Linked DNA regions of Homo sapiens: region 2 is linked to region 1. Evidence: fine-mapped expression QTL. A gene starts in region 1. The other region holds a variant in brackets. All regions are shown on one strand. Distances are between the middles of the regions.

Region 1 (9,523 bases):
ATTACCTCCCACCGAGTCCCTCCCACAACGTATGGGGATTATGGGGATTACAATTCAAGGTGAGATTTGGGTAGGGACACAGCCAAACCATATCAGCCACGAATATACTGCTGCTTCCATCTTGATCATTATCATATTCATTCTCTCCCTCTCTCCCCACCCCCGTCAGATCACTTGCTCTGGGGAGAAAAGCTATGTTGTGAAAAGCCCTGTGCATAGGCCCACATGGTGTAGAACTGAGGCCTCCAGCCAACAGCCATGTGAACGTGCCATTTTGGAAACAGATCCTCTGGTCCCAGTCGAGCTTCAGATGACTGCAACCTCAGGAGAGACCATGAGCCAGAAGCACCCAGCCAAGCTGTCCCCAGATTTCAACTTCAGAAACTGTGTGAGATCATAAATGTCTGTTGTTTTAAGCTGCTAAGTTTGGGGAAATTTGTTATGCAGCAACAGAAAACTCATTCAAAAGGTAGGCAAACTTTACAGGCAGCCAGGCACGCAGGACCAAACTACTATATTTCCTTCATCTCATGCCGTATAGCTTGGAACAATGCTATATATAAAAAATGCCCACAAAGCACTGACAAAAGCAACAATGAAAACAATATATTGGTAATTATCAATTAATGGCATTTTTCTTTTCTGCATTTAGATTTCAACTAAAAAACAACTAGCCACCATCACCAAAAACAAAAACAGCCAGGAGAACACTAAGGAAAATTATAAGCAGCTACTTTTTTTAAAGTGACAAACTTGAAATTGAGACCTGGCTAGAATTTTGCAATTGCTTCTAGTAAGCACATATACCGTCCCTCTTTGACACTCACTTCCACATCCTCTTCATCTTTCTTTCCACTGTCACCTATCCAAGACTCATCAACCCTCTTGCCTACTGGCCCCTCTGCTTTTTGGAATATCTAAGAATATATGTACACATACACCAATATTTATATTCCTAGGTACCAAAAGAACTGAGGAGCTAAAGGAGACAGCCCATGGTCAAATCTCCAAGGCCACATATTTAACTGGTATGGCTTGGATCAGTGGTCTGTGCCAAGCAGACAGCTGATGCTCAGTAACTGTTAGTTTTTCTCCTCCTTAACTACTCCGCCATGTGATGAAGGAAGAGTTCCTTTTCCTCTGTGCTCGGCTCTCTTTGCGATAACATTCAGAACATACATTCATTTAAAAAAACAAAACGAAAAAAAAACCAAGCGTCTTGCATGTCTAGAGCAGGGGCTGTTTAGCAGTAACTGGAGCCAAGGAAAAGTGGGACTCCTGTATACCATCTGGAGACAAGTTACACTGGAAAACTACAGAGTTCACCTAGATCTCTTCGCACTCTAGTCTTACATTGTCTCCAAATTTAGCTTTCAAGAAAGGTCTCTAATGATGTTTCTAACTTCCATAAGTTACATGAGGGGGGTAAGAATTTAGCAACTAAATGCAAAGAGGCATAGTAGGATTACGTGATTTGGAAGAAAGAATTATCCCTGCCAGACGGGGTGGCTCACACCTGTGATCCCCAGCACTTTGAGAGGCCAAGGTGGTAGGATGGCTTGAGCCCAGCAGTTCGAGACCAGCCTGGGCAACATGGTGAAACCCCATCTCTACAAAAAATACAAAAATTAGCTTGGCATGGTGGTGCAAGACTGTACCAAGCTACTCGGGAGGCTGAGGTGGGAGACTCACCTGAGCCTGGGAGGTGGGGGCTGCAGTGAGCGGTGATCACACCACTCCACTCCAGCCTGGGAAATAGCGCAAGACTCTGCCCCCAAAAACAAACAAAAAAAGGATTATCTCAATTCTCAGGCTTAAAATTTTTCATGGAATCTCAAGCCATCTTCAGTCAAGGCAAGAATTTAGAACTTTTCTACCCTCATCTTCTACCAAAATCTCTTCATATGCCGTGGAAGACTCTAAATCCTGTTTATCCTTATGGTCTAGGTCCCAAGTTCCCAAAAGATATCTAATAACTTACACTATTTTCCACACACAATCCTGGGAAAATGTTCTATTCCTCGGGCAGAGGGAAATCTGGCTGAGATCTCCGATAAGAGTGCTGTTTCCAATGGGAAGCAATGTGAATGGGCAAGGAAGGAAAGCCCCAGATGTGGTCAGAATAAAGCAGACCGGCTGACAACTAAAGCCACGCACAAAGGATATGTCTCCCTGGCCTTCTTCTCCCCCGCTCCTATTTCGTTTAATCCTAACAATTAGGATAACTATCATCACCCTTCTACAGTTGCTGACTCTGGAGCTCAGAGGGGGAAAGATCGTGCTCCACATCACAACACCGGTAAACTCTCAGAACCTGCATCAAACCCAGGTCTTCAAACTCACCCCTCCTGTTTTTCCCAATATGCAGTGCTACCTTTCATGGTCGGCCCATTTCTGGGAACTTCGATACTGTGCTTCTATTGCTCCAGGTTTAAGGAGCATTCTGAGCCTTGACCGGTTCTGAGCTTTGACATCCAACAATCTTATGGCTCTGCTTGGAACATCAGTCATTGACACCTCTAAAAGATTCACTATCCCCTCTGATACTCCATGCCCACCATCCATCCCCAAAACTTCAGAAGAAATGAGGTTAGGAAACCAGGACAGAGCAGAAAGTGCACTGTTCTACAAGGGCTGAAGATGAGTCACAGGTAACCCAGATGAGCAATCAGCCAAGTCTCTTCCACGGCCAATTCATTCAGTCCGCCAGGCACAAGCACTTCTCTCCCGAAGACTCACCTGATAAGAACACCAAAGTTCCAACGTTTCTCGTTGGAAATGAGCACAGAGAGGACACTGCTCACACAAGCAGTGTGGACGCAGCAAGCTCCGCGCCCCGCAACCCTGCACCGAGCACGGTTAACCTCACACTCCCACAGGCGGCAAGAACCGGGACGGCGATGCCCAGTCCAGGCGCTTCCCCTTAGAAGCCCCTTCGCCGCTGGCCCCTATCAGAAAGGAAAGGGGAGGAGGCTGGGGGAGAAACAACTTTATGCTCATTTGCAAGACAGGACCAAAACAAAACCAGCAAACCGAAGCCCTTTAGGAACACCGCCCAGTTCACGGCGCGTGCAAGTTCCGAGGGCAGTTAAGTTTTTGCAACACTTCCCAGCCCTGACCCTGCCCAAGCCGCGGCCGGAGGACTGAGGAAGTGGACGGTCCCGAGCGGGAGGCCCGCGGCAGGAAGTGGAAGCAGAGCCATCTGCGGGATAGGGAAGGAACCGCGGCTACAAGGGAGAGGCGGAGGCCGCCCCCACTTCCTCAGCCCCAGGCAGCCCAGGAAGCCGAGACTCCCCCAGGGAGTCCTCCCGGAGCGGAGCGGGGCCGCTGCCGGGGCGTCGCCCTCCGCCGGCCTCGGGGCGCGACATGTCCTGCCGCCGCCCGGCCACAGCCCGGCACGGAGGGAGCAAGAGGCTGCGGGCGTGCGGCGTACCCCACTCCCCAGCCCGCGCCCCACCCCGCCCGGGGCCCGCGGGCGCCGCGCCCTTACCAGGGACCAGTCCCGCCGCCTCCGCCGTCCGCACCCGGCCCGCAGCTCTTAAACGCGCCCCGCCCCCTCCCGGGGCCGGACCCCAGCCGTCCTCCACCGATTTGTCATTGAGCTGCCGGGCTCGCTTTCCCACCCCCCGAGCGCGCCTCCGGCGTCGCCTAGGCAACCCCTCCTCTCGAGAGCGCGCCCTCGCTTCCGTTCTTGCCCTCTCCTCGGAAGCCACGCCCGTCGGGGGGCTGTCAGCCAATCCGAGGCTGATTTTCCAAGCAGCGGGCGGCCGGGGAGGAGGTTTCACCAATGAGAAGCTGCCCCAGGCACGGGGGGGCGGGCCCAGCGCGCCTGCCCCGTCCCCCTCTGTTTCTCTCTCTGCCCCTCGGACACGCAGCTGGTAACCCTGCGGCAGTGGAGGAGCTGCCCGCCGGTATTGAGGGCGGGTGCGGGTGCACAAGGTGGGGCGCCAGTTGTGGGATTCAGGCCAGGGCTAGGACGAAGTAATGGAAAGCAAAAGCGAAGGACAGACCTGATCATACAGAAACAGAAGAAAATTACGAGGTGGCGAAGAGTGCTGGAGCGCGGCGATGGGGATGCCGCCCGGGGGTCTTGGGGCGGGACTCCACCTGCCGCCACCACTCGCTTCGCTGATGACATCCCATTAGCAGTAATGGAGTTAGTGAGTGCATGGCGGAGACTGGACCCAGGCCGCCTACAAGGGCCAGAATCCCACCCCAGCCATAGCCTCGAGGCAGGAAGTGCAGTGGGCAAGCTCCCTGCCAAAGCCCAGGAACGTGTGATTTTGTATCCAGTACAGCTTCATCTCGGTGGATTTTCCTTCCTAACCACCTCCTCCTCCACAGGTTTTGTGACCGTGCTGACCCCTACGCAGACCTCATGAGAGTCACAAGCCATCGCAACTGACAGTTTAAACGTCTGCCTCTTATCTCTAAGGGAGGGAACTATCTCTTATGCAATGTGATATCCATGGCTGCTAGCACAGTGTAATTAATTCTTTCATTGTTGATCATTGTAAGTTAGGATGCATGTGTATACTATATTGGAGGCTTTGGGCCATGATTAGATTGCTATGTATCTACCAGATCCAGTCCCTCCATCAGCATCTATATCAAAAAGCACAGAAGCTTTACCTTAGTCTTAAGTGACCAACTTAACAAAAAAGTGCAATCAGAAGAATATCCTAGTGTTAGCCTACTAAGTATTCTGTTTTTACCATTCTCATTCACATTTAAAACTTTTATTGAGTGCTAATCGTATGACAGACACTTTGCTAGGTACAGTAAGGAGATGGGGTAGGAGGCTTCTCAAAGAGGAAGCTCCCTAGTATTTATAACCTAGAAGAGGAATCAGACCCAAACCTTTTCTTACGGAGTAACAGTTAAGTGCACAGGTTTGGAGTCTGGAAGCATAGGATTAAAGGAGGGCTCTACCTTGTGACTAGCAGTTACTTAATTAGGAAACTACTTCTGTGGGCTTTAGTTTCACCAGCTGCCCAATAGCAGCACCTCCATGCTATAGGTAAGAAGATGTACATGCAAGTCCACATAGAGCTCTCAGTACAGTGCTAGGAACTTGGTGAGTGCCTCAGGAATGTGAGCTTACATTAGTGATTGCCACCAGAGGCCACGATGTACAGTCAAGTGTGTGATCACCAATCTGGTACAGCCTTATCTCCCAAAGCCCATCTGTATCAAGTGTGACCGCGTGCAGCCTGGTGGAAAGGGCCTGCTGTGGTGGTACCCTTTGTCAAATGCAAGTATAGAGAGGAGAGCAGCTGCAGCAGCCTACCCAAGTGAAAAGGGTATGATAGTTGAGGGAACAGGGTCAGAAATCAGGCCACAGGCCAGGATTCTACTGTTCCCACCTGCCCCCCATCCCCTAGGACCCACAGCAGATGCAGGAGGTTTCCCCACCTTTTCTGGGGTGCTGAAGTGCCATTCCTTTGCATTGGTAACAGGATGCACAGGGCTTTCTGAGAAATGCTGCTTTCATTCTCTGCCTGCCTAGAACTCGGAGGGGTCCTACTGGGACTCCTCCAGCAGGATCATCTATTCAGATCCTGGACATGCCAGACCCTGAGCTGTGCAGTATATTCAGAGAGGAGTGGCAGGACCCTTTTGGCGGGGCTGTCTCACACAGGACACCAATAGGGGAAACGTGTCCCAACGGGAGAAGGGAACCAAGAGGCCACCAGCCTCAGCTGCCTCTAAGGTGGCTCATTCCAGGTCTCAGGGGACCTCTTGTCTGCTGAGTTTCCCTACCAGAACTCTGACTCCCAGCAGAGCCAGGGGCTTGAGCAGCAGAAATACAAGATCCCCAGCAGGACTCCTTAAGGATGCTGTAAACGACTGCTGCCATGGAAAGAGCATTCTAGACACTCCATCCTTCTAAAGTATTTATTGATTACTGTGGGAGTCTTTAGTGCTGTCTGACAAACATTTCTACTCCTCTCTTGTGAGCACTGGAAACTTCCTAGCCCTGTAGTTGGGTGGAGCCATGTGACTAGCTCTAACCGATCACTTGTGAGCAGAAATGACACATAATCATTTCTAGGCTGGAGAAATTAATTGCCAATATAAGACCCTCCAGAGCTCTCTTGTCCTTGGTATGGCTACTGAGAATGTTAGGAAATGTGACTGCTCCATCAGCCAGGGTTTCTACAATGAGCACAGGCCCCCTACCAACCTGTGATGGACATTTAGAATGACTGAGAAATAAGCCCTTATGGTTTGAAGACACTACGATGTGGGAGTTGTTTGTTACTGCACATAGCTTAGCCTGCTCTGACGGATGCAAGGTGAACAACTCACACAAAAGGACAGAGAAGAGGCCAGTAAACAGACAAGCACCCCAAAAATTACAAATTATGTCATTACAAATTATTTTAGACTGGGTGGTCAAAAAAGATCTCTCTTGGGAAGTGACATTTAAGCTAGGACCTCAAGGATGAGAAAAATCAATCTTAGCAAAAGATGGGGGTAGGAGGAAGGACAGGAGAGTATTTCAGGCAGAGGCATAAGCCTGTGCAAAGTCCTGAGGCAGAAGAAAGCTTGGTACTGCTGAGAATGGCCAGGAGGCCTGGAATGGTGAGCAGGGGAAAGTGAGTCACACAGGGCTGGAAGGGGAGGCAAGAGCCAGATGATGCAGGGGCTTCTCGGTTATACAGAGGAGTTTGAAATTTACTCCTAGTGCGGTAGAAACTGCTGAAGAGGTTTGATATGGTTTGGATGTGTGTCCCCTCCAAATCTCATGTTGAAATGTAATCCCCACTGTTGGAGGCGGGGCCTGGTGGGGGGCTGTTTTGATCATAGGGACAGATCCCTCATGAATGGCTTAGTGCTACTCCTTGGCAATGAGTGAGTTCTTGCTCTGAGTTCACACAAGGTCTGGTTGTTTAAGAGTGCGTGGCACCTCCCCGCCTATTCTTATCCCCGCTCTCAGTATGAGATGCACCTGCTCCCACTATGCCTTCCGCCATGACTGGAAGCTTCCTGAAGCCTCCCCAGGAACAGATGCCAGTGCTATGCCTCCTGTACAGCCTACAGAAACATGAGCTAATTAATAATTAAGCCTCTTTTCTTTATCAATTACCCAGTCTCAGGTATTTCTTTATAGCAACACAAAATGGACTAACACGGACGGGCGCGGTGGCTCACGCCTGTAATTCCAGCACTTTAGGAGGTGAAGGTGGGTGGATCATGAGGTCAGGAGTTTGAGACCAGCCTGGCCAACATGGTGAAACCCCATCTCTACTAAAAATACAAAAAAATTAGCCAGGCGTGGTGGCAGATGCCTGTAATCCCAGCTACTCGGGAGGCTGAGAAGAGAGTTGCTTGAACCCAGGAGGCAGAAGTTGCAGTGAGCCAAGATCATGCCACTGCACTCCAGCCTGGGCAACAGAGCAAGACTCCGTCTTAAAAAAAAAAAAAAAAAAGACTAACACAAGGTTCAAACAGGAGGCTGACATGCTTTGATTTTGGTTTTAAAAAGATTACTCTGGGTCAGGCATGGTAACTCATGCCTATAATCCCAGCACTTTGAGAGGCCAAGGAGGGTGAATCTCCTGGGGTCAGGAGTTCAAGAACAGCCTGGGCAACATGGCGAGACCCCATTTCTATAAAAAATAAAAAAATTAGCCAGACAGTGGTGCACACCTCTGGTGCCAGCTACCAGGGAGGCTGAGGTAGGAGATTGAGTGAGTCCAGGAGGCGGAGGCTGAGCCCAGGAGGCAGAGGTTGCAATGAGCTGAGATCGTGCCACTGCACCCTAGCCTGGACGACACAGCAAGAAGCTGTCAGAAAAAAGAAAAAACATTACTCTGGCTGTGGTGGGGAGATTGGGCTGTGAGGGTTGGATGTGGAACCGAGGTTAGGATGCTGTTCCGGGGGTCCACGCACAGTGGGGTCCTAGACAGGGTAATCAGCTCTCAGATCAGAGATTTGGAGAGATTGCAGGAGGAAGGGAGCAAGAGAGCTGAAGAGAGCTGAAGACCAAACAGAACAGTCTTCCTGCCAAACCCCAGAGGAACCAGAGGCAAGGTTTGAAGTTTAGATCCCTAGAGGTGCTTTGACACCAGGGACATGGGTACTCAAAAGCCAGGAAGGAAATGGGGGAGGGTATGGATTTCCCAGAACATCAGCCAGCAGTGGAGACTTGCTTCCATGAGCTGGCAGGAGTGTATTCATAGACCGTATTATTAGAAAGAGGCCCGGCAAGCTTCTGTGGGCATCCCTGGGGGCATTTGATCTTTGGTAACCGCATCAATTAGAAAAGAAAAAAGGCTGCCAATCTACAGATGGGGGAACAGCCATTCTCACCTGCTGATGATTCTGGACAGACACTATTCCAAGCAGCCACAGCAAGAGGAGCTTGCCCTCGGCCCTTCTCTCAGCTTTCCCCTCTGCGTTTCACCACCCCTCACTGCCCAGAGGTTCTCGCCTCACTTCCTGCTGTCTGGTCCTGTTCTCAGGCATGGGTTGCACAGGCTCATTCCCGTGCAGGAATAAATGGCTAGTTACAGCTCCATTCCCATTCCGTCCTGGGCACTTGATGAAAACCTGAAGTTCCAGGCTGTGGGAGGTCTTTAGAGGAGGACCTAAGATCTTTAATTCACATCACTAGGATGGAGGGATCTACCCCTCATCCAAAAAAAGCTCAGACTCCTGAGTTCTCATGCAAAGCACCAGGTAAGGGCAATGCGTCGCGGGAACCCTCGTGGAGCGCCTAAGCAGTAGCCCTGAGCCTTCCTTTCCTTGCAGCCTTTTGCAGGCAGCTACCAAAAAAAGCTCTTGCCCTTTACTGATTCCCAAACATATTCAAACGCTTGACTCTGTTTCTCAGTTTAGTCATTGTCACTAAACTGTGGTAAGTCATTGCCACTAAACTGTGGTAAGTCAGGACTTTACGAGGGACTTTAAAAACCACTTTTCCCTAAGTGTGGTATTGAGGGCTTCTCTTTCCCCATCACCATCTCTCAAGGTGGTCCCTACAGCCCAGCCAGCCAGCAGGCACTCACCAGATGTTCCTGGGAATTGCTCTCTTAGAAAGTCAGAGGCCCAAGTCATTTGCTAAAGGAGAAGCTTTCATCTTCCAACAGGAACAAAGCTACTTGGGAAACACATTAGGAAAAAAACCCATGCATCTCAATTTCAATTTTAAATTATTTAATTAGCTGGACTTATCTTTCTGCTGTCATAGTTTACAAAGAGTTATCTCCCAGAAGTGAAGTCAAGTCTGTCTTGTAACTGAGACATACGCCTTCCTCACTATTGCTCATCCCCACTGCATGTCCTCTCGTGTCCTCCCCCTTCCCTCTTCCCGCAGACGCATGCTCTGGGCTTCCCACAACCTGCACGGGAACAACAGCTGCAGATCTGGTACCGACCTCCAGGTAACCAGATAAAAGCCGCCACGGGGTGACAGCTGCGAAGTACTCCATTGCGAGATAAAATGAGATTCAAGTGTCTAGATTCCGCGCTGAGCTCTTTCCAAAGTGAAATATGATTTGCAGCCTACCAGGAA
Region 2 (9,523 bases), 25 kb before region 1:
GATTTATCCAGTTTGACCCCCCAGAATAAGATAAAGAAAAGCAGGTACCAAACACAAAAGTGTCTCATTATAAGACATGGGGAGCATGACCCAGGAGGATAACCAGGTTTGGGTTTGAAGCTTATTCATTATGGGGGCCCTTCCTTAAGATACAAAATTACACACGTAATACTGGACATTAAAGTAAATGTTGACATTGAATGAGAAATCATAATCCATTATAAAGTTTTAAAGATGAGTACTCCAGCGATCTCACCCCCGGGTGACTCTCAGTGAGGCGAAGGGAATACCCCCATGTTTCCATTTCATTTTATAAGACCGTCTAGGCTGGCTGGAGACTGTCCTGCCGGCCTTGGAGAAGCAAGCCACTGTGGTATGAGCTGCCTATGGAGACGGCACATGGCAGGGGCCTGCGGGCAACTTGTAGAATCCGAGCACCTGTGTCCTACACCCACAAGGAACTAAATTCTACCAACAATTAGGGAGCCTGGAAGAGGACCCCCACGCCTCAGAAGAGGTCACAGCCCCAGCTGACACCTTGAGTGGAGTCTTGTGGGACTCTGAGCAGAGGACTCAGCTGAGGCTCCAATTCTGGACCCATGGAAACTATGGAATGACAAATGTATGTTGTTTTAACCTGCTAACTTTGTGATTATTATACAGTAATAAAAAAAACTAATACAAACAGCACTGACATCACAAAATCCAGCAAAATAACAATATTTTTATTAATTAAACTGCCTGACATACCTCTAGAATACCTTCTACTTTTTTGTTTGCTGTATACTTTTTCTTGTCATATGCCAATGATTTTGAAACATTCCTATAGAGAATAAAAAATAATTTAGTCTTTCCTTTAGCATGGTTAATGAAAATGTCTTTTGTTCTGACAGCTTAGAAGAGGTTCTTTCAGCTTCACAACTACATGAGTTTTTTTTTTTTTCTTTTTACTTTAAGTTCTGGGATACATGTGCAGAACATGCAGGTTATGTAGGTATACATGTGCCATGGTGGTTTGCTGCACCTATCGACCCATCATCTAGGTTTTAAGCCCCACATGCATTAGGTATTTGTCCTAATGCTCTCCCTCCCCTTGCCCCCCGCCCCCCAAAAGGCCCCAGCATGTGATGTTCCCCTCCCTGTGTCCATGCGTTCTCATTGTTCAACTCCCACTTATGAGTGAGAATATGTGGTGTCTGGTTTTCTGTTCCTGTGTTTGCTGAGAGTGATGGTTTCCAGCTTCATCGATGTCCCTGCAAAGGACATGAACTCATTCTTTTTTATGGCTGCATAGTATTCCATGGTGTATATGTGCCACATTTTCTTTATCCAGTCTATCTTTGATGGGCATTTGGGTTGGTTCCATGTCTTTGCTATTGTAAATAGTGCTGCAATAAACATACATGTGCATGTGACTACATGGCATTTCTAGTAATGAAAGTTTTGGGATTACTGCCAAATTTAGGAAACCTCTATTGAGCTTCACTGTACAAGCTGTAAGATCTGAAAGACTTTTCTGGCCCAGTTTCTAGCTTCTAGCTCTCACACACTTGTGTCAGGTGCCACAGGACAGGTTCGCATCAGGATCCACCCCTGGCCCTGCACCTCACATCACGATGTTCGCACGTCAGCACAGTGGGCGGTTGGAGTACTCCTGCAGCCAGCGATAATCGCCACATGCCGCGTGACTCCAAACCACACCAACACATACCACTATTCCCACCTAACCCAGCCCAACACAAACTCCCTCAGCTAGAGGCCGAAAATGCCCATGGCCACTCCAGCTGCACCCAGCATAAGAGGAAGCAGGACAATGGGAAAGTCTAGTGAAAAGAGGTAGTGATCTTAACTGACGTGGTTGTGATAGCTTTCTTTCGCAAATCTCATAAAGCCATGTGGCCGCAATGCAAGTGAGAGGCCCTGAGGTTTAAGCTCTGCTCGGAACACTCTCCCTGCCTGTACTACAGTCATCCCTCGGTATCCCTAGAGAAATGGTTCCATGACCCCCACCAAATACCAAAATCTGCAGATGCTCAAGTCCTTTACTTAAAATGGCACAGCATTTACATGTAACATCCTCCCGTACACTTTAAATCATCTCTAGATTACTTATAATACATAATACAATGTAAAGGCTACGCAAACAGTTGTTACATTGCATGTTTTAATTTGTATTGTTTTTATCATTGCATTGTTATTTTTCATTGGGTTTTTTTCCCGAATATTTTCATTCCGCAACGTTTCATTCTACATTGCTTGAATCTGCAGATGTAGAGCCCACAGTAGGCTAAGTATCCTAGCAAACAGCTCAAGCAGGGACTTTTGTAGCTCCGGGGATCAAGGCTGTGTTGTCACACTGAACTCAACACCAGTGATGTTATCCACATTAAGTAGGTGACGTAAATTTTGGGCAAGGATAGTGCAAGCTTTACCTTGCCGCACGGGAGAACTGGATCTGATGTCTATCACTTGCGAAAGGATTAAGTTGTATGACAGCTCAGCTCCCCTTTCACTCTCTTTCACTTCGCGATTGACTGACAATCACAAGGCTAAATGCTTGTGTTGTTTGGAAAATCTGTACAAAGGCTCCTCTCTCCTCCCCTGGGCTTTTGTCAGAAAGAAAGCTCGAAGTATAACAATGGAAACGATGCAAGCAGAGATCTCTCACATCCCCGCCGGAGTTGAAATTATTTACCTAGAATCAGCAATCCAGATCTTATGCTGATTAGACCTTCCTAGGAAGCTATTCAGAAGCCACCTCAACACAGACTTGCTCCGTGAACCCCTGTGTACGGGAGGACCGGCACAGAAACAGCGGGAGCAGGGACACTGCTACGGCCAATGCCAAAGGAAGGTGGTCTGTGCCTAGCAGGGCTTACCTCGTCATACATGAACTGAAGCGTCAGGGCTGACTTGCCAACGCCTCCGCTGCCAACCATGATCACCTTGTGGAGGGCCAAGGAGCTCTGGCCCTTACTCTTGTTGGCAGCCATCTCGCTGGTCTTCTGAGGCTGTGACACACAGATGACCCACTGAAGAGCTGCTGATGACAAAGACAAAGACTTAGAGGCGATTTGCTTTCAACCTAGCTAAAACCAAATGTCATTCACATCCTCCATTAAAGCCTAACTAACCCAGACATTCCAACAGGAAAGTAATCCTTTCAGGCTCAGGGCAGACATGCGAGCCCTCCAACAACTCTGGAAGTCACTTACCCCAGCACAGCTGGGGCGAAGCCAAGGCTAGAGGGGAGAAACAGGAGCGCACACCCCACGCCCGCCTCACTGGGCAGGGTGGAGAGGACACCCAGTCACCAAAAATCATCAGACCCTCAGCAGGGCCTCACTGAGGCAGAGACCAAACCGCTCGTAGCTCCAGTTTCCTACCTCTCTGCTCGGTTCTCGGCTGCCGCGGAGAACAGCTTGGGACCTCAATCCCCAGCTCTTTAGCTTTACTCCTCGCTTTGCCCTCTTACCCTCTACCCCACAACACGCACACACTCACAACACGCTCACACACGCTCTCACATTCACACTCACAAACGGTCACTAACACACTCACACATGCCCACATTCACACACATGCTCACACTCACACACGCTCACATTCACACACACTCACGCTCTCACATTCACATTCACACATGCTCACACACTCGCACACACATTCACACATGCTCTTATTCACACACATTCACTCACATTCACACATTCACACTCGCTCACACACGCTCACATTAACTCACATTCACACACACGCTCACACTCATTTTCACACTCATGTTCTCACATTCACACATGCTCATGTTCTCACATTCAAACACACATATTCACACACTTGCTCTCACACGCTCTCACACACTATCACAGGCTCACACATGCTAGCACACGCTGTCATACATGCTCACATTCACACACAAGCTCACACACTATCACACACGCACTATCACACACACCCACATACACACTTTCACTCATAACACGTTCACAACGCTCTCACAACACTTTCAAATTTGTGCTCATGTACACTCACAAGCTCACATGCTCTCACAACACACACTCCATACACTATCACACACTTGTCCTCTCATAGGTGCACTCACGCTTTCACACACACACACAACTACACACTCACATACGCTCTAACGTTCACATGCTCATACCACACATACATGTTCATGCTCACACCACATAC[A/TCACA]TGCTCTAACACATGCTCATATCACAGGCTCAGAGGCTCTAACATGCACATGCGTGTTCACATGCTCTCACACATACATGTTCACGCCACCACACACATGCTCTCACACACATGTTCACATGCTCACACCACACACAATCTCACATGCTGTAACACGTTCACAGAACACACACGCTCTCGCACATGCTCCCATGCACTCTTATGCTCTCATACACTTTCTCACACACACATATGCTCTCACACTCTTACACAGCCCCACACATCCCTCTGGTTGATTAAAGAAGTGAGTTCAAGAACAAATACCCCTTCATGACATGAGAGTTAAAAGGAGAAATCTCAAAATCAATTTGCCCTAATCAGAAGGAAGATAAAATGAGTAGAGCAACTCCAGTATTATGGGACAACAAAGCATCCCAAGTAAGTATATTTAACAGGGACCTGGAATCTACCGTAACCCAAGTGCCAATCTTTATTTTAACCAATTTGTATGGAAAAATCTATTTCACATATACCAAAACACAAGAATAAAGGGCAGGGCTTGGGCATCTGGCAGGCATGAGTGTGGTTCTGCCATTTGTGAGCTGCGTGACCCTAGAACTAGTTCAATGTCTCCAAGCCAGTTTTCTTATGTGCATAAAACCAACCACCACCTACCTTGCAGGAATGTTCTGAGGACTAAATAGGATATACATGGAAAACACCAAGGCACAGACCCAGCACCCAGTAGGAATGAACCAATGTTGTTTTCCATCCCATCTAATTGTAAGAGTGATACAGGAGGTAGAAAGAGACCATTTAGGCAGATAGTGAGGGCAAAGAGTCCTCGGCAGAACTTCCTCCTTTTTTTTTTTTCTTTTTTTTGAGACAGAGTCTCACTGTGTCACCCAGGCTGGAGTGCAATGGAACGATCTCGGCTCACTGCAACCTCTGCCTCCTGGATTCAAGTGATTCTCCTGCCTCAGCCTCCTGAGTAGCTGGGAATACAGGCACGCACCACCCTGCCTAGTTAATTTTTGTATTTTTAGTAGAGATGGGGTTTCACCATGTTGGCCAGGCTGGTCTCAAACTCCTGATCTCAAGTGATCCACCCCCTGCTCAGCCTCCCAAAATGCTGGGACTACAGGTGTGAGCCACTGCACCTGGCCAGAACTTCCCTTCTAACAAAACACAGCCCAAGAAATCAATTATTTTCTAAAAAAGAGCAGCCTGGAAGATCAGGTTACAAACATAGATAAGGAAGCCGGAGGCTTGCACAGCTGCATGCCAGCGGCTGCACCAATAGAAGGGCTACCTGGGGCCAGGCAGGTCCACCATGGTGGTTCCACCTCCCCCATTTTTAGCACATGTGCAATAGGAAAGAAATAAGCAACATAGAGTAGCTCAGGCTGAGGACTCGCCTGCATAATAAAAGACTGTGGTGGGTGCTGCCAGAGAGTCATGCCTTATGCAGATGGCACACTTGGTCCTAACTGGTTTTCCACACCCTATGTAGATCAGATACTGCCTCCCCACTAGCACATCTGTAAAAACCCCTGCATTTCACTGCAGGATGGCAACCCTTTTTCCAGGACTACTCTCTGTGGCAGAGAACCGTTCTCTTTCTTTCTCCTATTCAATTTCTGCTCTAAACCTCACCCTTGGTGTGTCTGCATCCTTGATTTCCTTGGCCATGAGACCAAGAACTCTGGATGTCACTCCAGACAACGAGGCCACTTTACGAGAGTGTTCATTCTAACTACAACATGGTGGACTCCTATTTCCCTTACTGCTGACGAGATAGCCTGAAAACATCCCCACTAGAAAAATAAACACACACAACACACACACACATCACTGGGCGAAATAAAACAACATCATCTTAAATCAGTGGTTCCCATTCTTAGCTATACAACAGAATCATGCAGGGAGCTTCAGAAACATCCTTACACCTGGGTCCCACCCTAGATTCTGAAATAATTGGTCTGAGATGCAACCTGGGCATGGGAAATTCTAAAAGATTCCCAGGTGATCCTCATGAGCAGCCAAGGCTTAGAATTGCTCTTAAATGCACAGCTGAGCTCAAAAGAAAGTAAGGATCCCCAAACAGGAGAGAATCAGAGCAGTAAGAGCGGCAGTTCCTGCAGTTCTGGATGGTTGCTGTTCTTGGTAATTTAGGATTTAACGTACATGTGCATGTGTGCGCATGCACACACACACATTCACATGGCTGGGAGACCAGACATACACACAAGGTAGCAGTTAGAATTGAGACACCTTTTCAATTGGGAACTGAGAAGTCAAGACCCTTGAAGGAGCACACCATCTGTGCGCCAACAGAGGAAAATGACAAGGAAGCTTGTCTGGGCTCTGGCTGTAGGGAATTCTCCCCTGAAAACCTATACCCACAACACTCCTCTAAAGCCAATAAAGTAACATGAAAAGTGGTCCCAGGCTGCTCATAGTGCTGGAGGCCCAGGCAATGCTAAACGAAACCTCTCTGGGGGAACAAGGGGCAATGAGTGTTCGGGAGTCTCACAGCTAAAGCCTAAAATTCCAGCTCACAAAACACAAGCAAATCGCAATTCATGAGAGTCAATGGCAGTAACAAGCAGGACTCTTCAGGCAAATATTATAAAAAGTATTAGTTGATCAATTTTAACAAAGACAAAGGCAAAATGTGAAAAAAATGACATCATTGAAAGACCTGATGGAGTTGAAAAAGAACCATTCTGAATGCTTAAAATACTTTTTAAGTATTTTAAAAGTAACGATGCTCATAGCAAATTTACAGAATACACATAAAAAGCACCTATGATCCTACCACCCAGAGATACTCACTATTAACTGTGTATACCAGAATTTTATCTATACCTTCCTATATTTAAAACCTGTTTGAGGCCATTATTTATGTAGTGTTGCAAGTTACTTTTCATGTATTAGATTTCTCTGTCTTCTGAAACAGCACAGACTGAACATAACCAAGCTTTCTCTTGACGACCTCAGGGCACTCATCAGTTTGTGAAAGGCCTTGGCTGCCAGGAGTCCAGATCACATTTGCTCTTCTCCCCCCTACTCTTGACCGCCTGCCTACACCAGGCGTTCTTTCCACTCCCCCTTTGCAAATTACGTACTTTTTTTTTTTAAATAAGTGAGCTAAGCAAGTAACTAGATAAGTAAGCACATCTGAAATGTGGCTAAAATAGAATAAATGGAATAAGAGGCAGACCTCCCCAAAAGGCTTGAGTTTAGGAAGGTGAAACTACTTCTGGCCTCATTTCTGGTCCACACTGTTTCCTACAGAGCTGAGGTTTGTGAATGAGGTTGGAACCTCCAGACCATCAACCTGTCACACAATTTCTCTGAATCAATCCTGGTTCTATGAATTATTATGGCTGTCTGAAAAGGATATTTTTCCAGGTTGGGGGGGATCCTTGCAAACACGTGTAGTTATCTAATTCTGAACTGCTGTTTTCAAAAACAAGTCAATTTCTCTAGAAGAAATAATAAATGAATTGAAAACTATTCAACACACCCCGATACTTCCCAAAATATCTGTGCTTAAAGTTCAAAAACTGAAATAACCATGGTGGATATTTCCAGCCTGTATCACTGCTTCAGTCAACTTGGCATAATTAAGGGAAAGAACAGGGAAGGTAGAGGTGCTGACCACATGCCCCTCACTGAACCAATCCTAGAAACAGCAACCTCCAGACTTTGGGTGAAACTGCCTTTGCAAAGATTCTGACAGTGAAAGAAGCTGAACGTGCTGACTCCATCTTGCCTCTGGTCTTACAGGTCGGCGTCTTCTCTTATTCCTGGGCATAGGCCACACCAACCCTGAGAGGAATTTCTAGTTTAACAAGGATAATAATAGTCCCTCCCTAAAATTGATCCTTTCCTTGTTCAGGGACTGAAACGGCCTTTATAAAACTAGTAAAAGGCCAGGAGATTAGAATTATGGGAGGGGCCTGAGTTCTGCTAAAATATAGGCCTCCTTCCTATAATCCCTTACTGCTCAGGAGTCATGTGGTCAGAGGTCACAAGATGTGGACTACCCCAGTTGCTCCTATAGATAACATCAGTATTGCAGAACCTAAGATTGGTCTTTTGAGATGTTTTTCAGACTGACCCCACATGGACTTATGACTCAACCAGTCCTGTGGTTCCTCGCCACCATCCAGAGGTGAACTCAAGGGCACAAGCACCATTTTCTACACCCCTATAGTTGCATCCCCAACCAACCAGCAGCACCCATTCCCTAACCCCCTGCCTACCAAAACATCCTTGAAAAACTCTAAACTCTGAGCCTTTAGGGAGACTGATTTGACTGATAATTCCAGTTCTCCCATGTGGCCAGCCTCGAGTCCACTGAACTCTCTTTACTGCAATACCATGGTCTCAGTGAATTGGTTTTGTCTGTGCAGTGGGCAGGAAGACCCAACGGGCGATGACACAGGGTATTAGAGATAAGAAACTTCTAACTGTTTAAGCCACAAAGAGTCCACTGTTGTGTTTGTTTTTTCTTGTACCAAAAACATTCCAGAACACAGTCTTTGCCCTCAAAAAACTCAAAGACTAGTGGTTCAGACAGATTAGTAAGTAAATGATTACAGTACAAGATAATAAATTCTATGGCAGAAGTATGCAAGTGGTGCCCTGGGAACACAGAAAGACATATCTGTATCAGGCTGGAAGGTCAGGGGAAATTTCCTGGAGGGACATCGCATGAACTAAGAGCTGAAGGAACTGACTAGATAAAGACAGGAGGAGAAAGAGCAGGAAGGAAAAAAAAATCAGTTAAGTTTAGGAAGCTCACGTTAATGATTTAATACCTATAATGGAAATGCCTAGCCAATAAATGTGTTCTTAAAAAAATACAGGTATCTTCCCCAACATTTTATCCCAAAAAGTTTCAAACACTAAGAAAAGTTGAAACAACCATCCTGTGAATCCATACACTCACTGCCTGGACTTTACAATCAACATTTTGCTCCATTTGCTTTATCACAAATCCATTCATCTGTCGTCCCTCTCTCTACCCATCAGTGCACCTCATTTTCCGATATATTTCAGTGTAAATTGCAGGTATCCGTATACTTTGTCCCTAACATGAAGCACAGACATTCATTTTCCCCAAAGCAATTAGACTTCCCCCACTGAATTCACTAACAATTTCAGAACTACATCTGTGGGGCGGGGACCACTTGCAAACCATAAGATCATAAGGGTAGGGCCCTGATCCTATTCAATGGGTGCACTTATAAGAGAAGGAAGAGAGACCTGGGCTCTTTCCACCATGTGAGGACACACTGAGAAGGCAGCTCAGGTATCTCTTCCTCTTCTTATAAGG

Alleles and levels. Positions count from the first base shown, and alleles are read on the strand shown. Sizes are in standard deviations (SD) of each study's normalised expression.
As copies of TCACA replace A in region 2, the expression in lymphoblastoid cells of the gene that starts at base 3,619 in region 1 goes down (moderate effect, 0.63 SD a copy in GTEx).

The links. PIP is the estimated chance that this variant, and not a neighbour inherited with it, causes the effect.
Region 2: its variant is fine-mapped to the expression of RALB in lymphoblastoid cells (GTEx, PIP 0.92).

The regions. Positions count from the first base shown.
Region 1 is chr2:120,246,948-120,256,470 of GRCh38, reverse strand. RALB (RAS like proto-oncogene B) reads right to left here and starts at 3,619. Exons shown (of 5, transcript NM_002881.3): 1 at 3,491-3,619. RefSeq lists an enhancer at 2,567-2,836 and a silencer at 3,337-3,926.
Region 2 is chr2:120,272,135-120,281,657 of GRCh38, reverse strand. It overlaps RALB (RAS like proto-oncogene B), which reads right to left. Exons shown (of 5, transcript NM_002881.3): 2 at 2,880-3,040. The coding sequence starts at 2,993. Among named protein-coding and RNA genes, the nearest start is that of RALB, 24 kb to the right of the region's middle. The variant A/TCACA (reference allele first, on the strand shown) is at 4,195.